Linked DNA regions of Homo sapiens: region 1 is linked to region 2. A link means that fine-mapping ties the variant in region 2 to the expression of a gene that starts in the linked region. Tissue or cell type: sun-exposed skin. Region 2 holds a variant in brackets; the other region holds the start of a gene. All regions are shown on one strand. Distances are from middle to middle.

Region 1 (2,910 bases), 32 kb after region 2:
TAAGCACATTTAATATATTGTGCTCTTGAAAACCTTTTGTCCTGAACTTTAAACAAATAATGTGGCTGGAAAATGTGTGGTTGCTGCCCGCCACATCAAATGCACTATTTCCTGAAGATGTTGCTAGTTCACCGCAGCTGTCCTTCCTAAAGGACTGCAGAACATCTCAGCCTGAGAAGCTTCAGGACTCAGAAAGTATGATGTTAAAAGAAGATAATTTATCCTTTCTACAAATCATAAAATACTGTATTAAATAAAAATGTTAAATATACAGCTATCCTCTCAAGATGAACCACCAAAACAAGAGCACAAAAAGCGAAAACTTCTCGTCCAAAAAAAACCCAACAACAAAAAAGAACCAGAGGGAATGAGAGTTTACATACGCAGCTGTTAGTCTTTCTGACCAAGGAAAGAATGAGTTTTAAACACTCCAGCATTTTTTCAAACAAATGAAAACACTATTTCTGCTACTGAAAAAGATGCGTGGCAGGCTCTTTAATGGACGAATTGAGAAATCAACAGCATTTGGTTAAGTCTGGCGACTGCTGGAAATCCGGCGGCTCCCCAGGCCACACGGGACCACCGAGCAGGGCAGGGCGGGCCAGCCGCAGGGCACTGGGAGGGCACTCCCCCGGGGCGCCCCCGCACCTGCCCCCGCAGTTGAAAACCTTTCGGTGCGCACCGTCTCGGCCCGCCCCGCCCGCGTCCTCTCCAGTGTCCCCACCGCCCGGTTACCTGTGCGCCGGCCTCCTGCGCCGCCTCTAGCTCCGCGCTCTCCAGCGTGGCCTGGCGGCTCCGCTCCTCGGCGAGGCACAGCCGCAGGCTGCACAGGCGGTGGCGCAGGTCGCAGTTCTCGGCCCGGAGCTGCGCCACCTCCCGCGTGAGGCACGGCCCCTCCGCCTGGCAGCTGTAGGGCGCGTTCAGCTGCTCGTCCCTCAGGCGCTCGACCTCCGACCACAGCCAGCGGATGTCCTCCTCCTGCCGCTCCAGGCGCGACGCCACGGCCTCCGCCGCCAGGGCCTCGGCCGCCATCGCGGCCTCCCTCAGGCACCGACGCCGAGCGGGGTGCCCGCGACTGCGGCGAGGGCGACGCGGACACTCAGCGCACGGCAGAAGACAGGGCTCCCGGGAGGGGCGGGGCGATGGGGCGGGGACGGAGCCATGGGGCCTCGTTGGAGCCGAGGCCTACACGTTGCAGGGGCGGGGCGCTGGGCGGGGAGGGGCGGGGCCTAGGCCAGATACCCTGCAGGGGCGGGGCGGGGCGGGGCGGGGCCTGAGGCCAGATACCCTGCAGGGGCGGGGCGGGGCGGGGCCTGAGGCCAGGCCCACCTTAGGGTCACGGGCAGTGGGGAAATGGGGTCTGAAGGGCCTCCCCTGCCTTTCGAGGCCTGTCTAGAGGCTATTGGCAGTAGTTTTTAGTCCGTTGAAACGAAAATCTTCCAAAACCTTGCAAAAAGGCCATCGTCTGCGTTCTCCAAAAAGGCTTCACCCTTTCTTCCTCTTGAATTCTGGCAGTCACCATTCTTTTGCCTTGCAAACAGGTTCTAAAAAGTGGCCATTCATTATAAATGGACTTTCTGGCCTTTCGTGCCAAACTTGCCCAAGTACTGAGGCCTCTGGGCCAGGGCATATAGAAAATCGCTGTGAAATCTAAATCCGACCAGCACGAAATTACTGGCTCCTTGAGTCTAGGGCAAATGCCACATATATCTTTGTATCCCTCTTAACCATGAGCGTGAAACTTCCTGGAGCAGGAACAGAAATTGATTTTTATCACTATTCTTAGGGCTTAGGATGTGACAAACACTGTTCTAAACTCTGTAACAGTAGTAACTCCTTTAATCTTCATAACAGGAGATACTGTTATATCCGCTTATAGCTGGAGAAATTGAAGCACAGTGAGACTGTGTTACTTGACTAAGGTCACACAGCCACTACATGACAAAGGGGGAATCAAACTCAGATAGTCTGATGCCAGTTTCTACACACTTAACACTAGTACTTTTCAACTTTGGCAGAATTTAATTGAGCATGTCATATAATGTGATACAGGTAATAATGCCCTTATAAGAGTCCTGAAGTGGAAGAGCTTAGCTTGGACTGGTGTGGTTTGAGAAAGGGAGAAAATTTTGAGAAAGGGGAAAAGGTTTATTTTGCTCTGGAAAATAAAGGTTGGGAGATGTTAGCAAGGAGGAAAAGCAGGTAAATTCCACTCCAGGAGCAGAATCAGTGCAGGAGAAGGAGCGGAGGGGGACAAGCTCATTGGATTAAGCTAAGTGGAATCCCAAACAGCACCCAGGAGGAGATTCCATGAAGTATGTTGCTAACCAATATCACTGTATCTTTTTTAGTCCTTCCTCAGGAAGCCTCTGGATACAGTTACATAGGACCCACTGACTCCTCATTATTCATCATTTCTCAATCCACTGCCATGGAGTTTCTGCTTCTGCCATTCTGTCATGACCAACACATCACTGAATGTCATGGACCCACTTAAGCCACCCCAGAATTTCCTCGGGACCCTCTGGAATTTGTCTCTCTTGGGTCTCCATTCCCAATACCTAGGCAACCACCAGTCTGCTTCCTGTCACTATAGGTTAGTTTGCATTTTCTTGATTTTTCTACACATGGAACCACACCGTATGTCCTCCTTTTGTTTAGCTACTTTCAGTCGGCACAATAATTTTGATATTTACCTATGTTTGTGTGTATCTATTGTTCTTTTTTTCTGAGTAGTATTCCATTGTATGGATATACCATAATTTGTTTATTCATTTGTTGATGGAAAATTTGGGTTATTTCCAGGTTTTAGCTAGGATCACACAATACCCAGTGAGCCCATTGGGTTTCCAAACTCACACTGTAGTTATTTCGTCAGTTCCAGAATGCAGAGTTTGAATAGATATACTC
Region 2 (2,910 bases):
ACAAATGTGCACCACTACGCCTGGCTAATTTTTGTATTTTTAGTAGACACAGGGTTTCACCATGTTGGCCAGGCTGGTCTCGAACTCCTGGCTTCAAGCGATCCACCCCTCTCAGCCTCCCAAAGTGCTGGGATTACAAGAGTGAGTCACTATGCCCAGCCTTTTAAATTTTCTTCAATAAATTTTATTTCACATATTTGAGATTCACAACATGATGTTATAGGACACAAATAGTAAAAGAGTTACCTTTTTTGTGTGTGTGACAAGAGCAGTTAAAATCTAATTACTTAACAAAACTCCCTGATAAATATAATTTTGTTAACTTTAGTCCTCATGTTCTGTATTAGATCTCTGGCCTTGTTGATCCTAGATATCTATTTTGTATCCTTTGATCTATATCCCCCCATTTCTTCCCCCCAACCCCTGACCATGGTAAGCACTGTTTAATTCTCTGTGTATGTACCTGAGCTCTCTCCTTTTTTTAGATTCATCAGCTCCCCTGGTTCTCAGGCCTCTGCACTCAGGCGAGAATTACATCTCCAACTTTCTTGGACCCTCAGATCATGGGATTTCTTGGCCTCCATAATCACACAAGCCAATTCCTCATAATAAATCTCTTCTTTTCTATGTATCTTGTTGGTTCTGTTTCTGTGGAGAATCCTGACATGCCAATATACTTTCCATATGGTTTCTGATTGGGTCTGACCAATGGGAAGTTCCAAAGGATTCACAGGGTAGTGGAAGAGAGAGGTCTGGATATTTCTTTCCCTGGTTCTCCCTGCTGTGGGTTTACTCAGGTTCTGGCTGTGTTCCACAGTTACAGCTTCTGTTGTGTGGCCTCTCCTCCACGGCTCCAAGCTCTCTGTGGGTTCTGGTATTACTACTCCATCTCCTCACTTCTCTCCTCCACGGCTCCAAGCTCTCTGTGGGTTCTGGTATTACTACTCCATCTCCTCACTTCTCTCCTCCACGGCTCCAAGCTCTCTGTGGGTTCTGGTATTACTACTCCATCTCCTCACTTCTCTCCTCCACGGCTCCAAGCTCTCTGTGGGTTCTGGTATTACTACTCCATCTCCTCACTTCTCTCCTCCACGGCTCCAAGCTCTCTGTGGGTTCTGGTATTACTACTCCATCTCCTCACTTCTCTCCTCCATGGCTCCAAGCTCTCTGTGGGTTCTGGTATTACTACTCCATCTCCTCACTTCTCTCCTCCATGGCTCCAAGCTCTCTGTGGGTTCTAGTATTACTACTCCATCTCCTCACTTCTGCAGGCCTAGTGATGGAGGGGAAGGGATTCTTGCTATTGGTAATCCCTGGGCGCTCTATCATCCCTTGTTAGTTACCTTAGCCAGGCCCATATCTCCATAAATACTTCCTTCACTAGACTCTCTTCAGTTAAACCCTTGGAGTGCATCTTTCAGGACTCTCCCTGCAGAAGAGCTGAATGTTTTGAGGCCTGCCATGTTCACAAAGACAAGCTTGGTCTAGAAATTCACTCCATCTAAGGTTGTGTGAAGAGGAAGCAAAAATTCCCCAAGTGGGTTATTAATATAACAACAAGAGAAGCCACTCCCCTCCCCACTCCAGGGTTTCAAGACATGCATCAACAAGTCAGGCAGATTCCAGGAAATGCAAAAG[G/A]TGTGACTGAGATGAGCTTTACAAAAGCAACCCTCATGCACAGCTGGTGGGAATGCAAAACAGTAGTCATTTTGGAAAATAGTTTGGCATTTTCTTATAAACTTAAATTTACCATATCTATTCTCACACTGCTAATAAAGACAAACCCAAGACTGGGTAATTTATGAAGGAAAGAGGTTTAATGGACTCACAGTTCAGCATGGCTGGTGGGGGGGCCTCACAATCACGGTGGAAGGCAAAGGAGAAGCAAAGGCACATCTTAAATGGCAGCAGGCAAGGGACTTTGTGCGGGGGAACTCCCTTTTATAAAATCATCAGATCTCAAGAGACTTATTCACCACCACAAGAACAGTATGGGGGAAACCACCCCCACGATTCAATTATCTCCGCCTGGCCCCACCCCTGACCCTTGGGGATTACTACAATTCAAGGTGAGATTTGGGTGTGGACACAGCCAAACCATATCACCATATGACCCTGAAATCACACTCCTAGGTATTTACTCTAGTAAAATGAAAACCTATGTTCATACAAAAAACTGTACATGAATGACAATAGCAGTTTTCATAACTGCCAAAAGCTGAAAACAACCCAAATGCCCCTCAACTGCAGGATGGATCTGAAGCAGTGGTATGTTCATATGATGGAATACTGCCCAGGGACAAAAGCAGAGGCCCGCTGGGGACACTCAACTCGGATGCATCTCCAGGGTGTTATGCTGGGTGAAAGCGGTCAGTCTCTAAAGGTTTTATAAAAGTATGATTCCATTTATATGCCAATATTTTAGGGGTAGAGAAAAAATCAGCCGTTCCCTGAGGTCAGGGCTGGGGAGGATTTGATTTTAAAAGGGTAGCATGAGGGAGTTTTGAGGGGTGACGGAACTGTTCTGTATCTTGATTGCTGAGGTGATAACACAGTTCTGCATGTTATCAAAAAGGCGTACATTTTACTGCATGACAATTAAAAAAGTTAATTTAAAAAAAGGTAAGAAAAGTACAGAATCAGCTGACAGATATTTTCCAGAATGCAGGGAAAAAAAAATTCAAGGAGACTAACAAAAAGATCTATTTATTCACTATCAGTTGTCCACACAGTCAGTAACTAATATACAAACAAAAGTTCACTTGCCTTTACTTAAACCTAAGTGGAAGTCATTTTACCTGAGTCAAAAACTCAGAAATCCTGAAATTTCCCTCAGTGGGAGCAGTGTGCACACCCAGCCCATCCTGGCCTCCTACATCCCTTCCACAGAAATGCAGCAGTTCCAGTTCT

Which allele goes with the higher level. Positions count from the first base shown, and alleles are read on the strand shown. Sizes are in standard deviations (SD) of each study's normalised expression.
For the expression in sun-exposed skin of the gene that starts at base 1,118 in region 1, G is the high allele of the variant in region 2 and A is the other (small effect, 0.26 SD a copy in GTEx).

Evidence for each region. PIP is the estimated chance that this variant, and not a neighbour inherited with it, causes the effect.
Region 1: TARS3 starts here. The variant in region 2 is fine-mapped to the expression of TARS3 in sun-exposed skin (GTEx, PIP above 0.99). The same link has a PIP of 0.9 or more in esophagus mucosa.

Annotation. Positions count from the first base shown.
Region 1 is chr15:101,723,356-101,726,265 of GRCh38, forward strand. TARS3 (threonyl-tRNA synthetase 3) reads right to left here and starts at 1,118. Exons shown (of 19, transcript NM_152334.3): 1 at 736-1,118. The coding sequence starts at 1,032. RefSeq lists a silencer at 514-1,403.
Region 2 is chr15:101,691,419-101,694,328 of GRCh38, forward strand. All of the region lies in intron 10 of TARS3 (threonyl-tRNA synthetase 3), which reads right to left. Among named protein-coding and RNA genes, the nearest start is that of TARS3, 32 kb to the right of the region's middle. The variant G/A (reference allele first, on the strand shown) is at 1,639.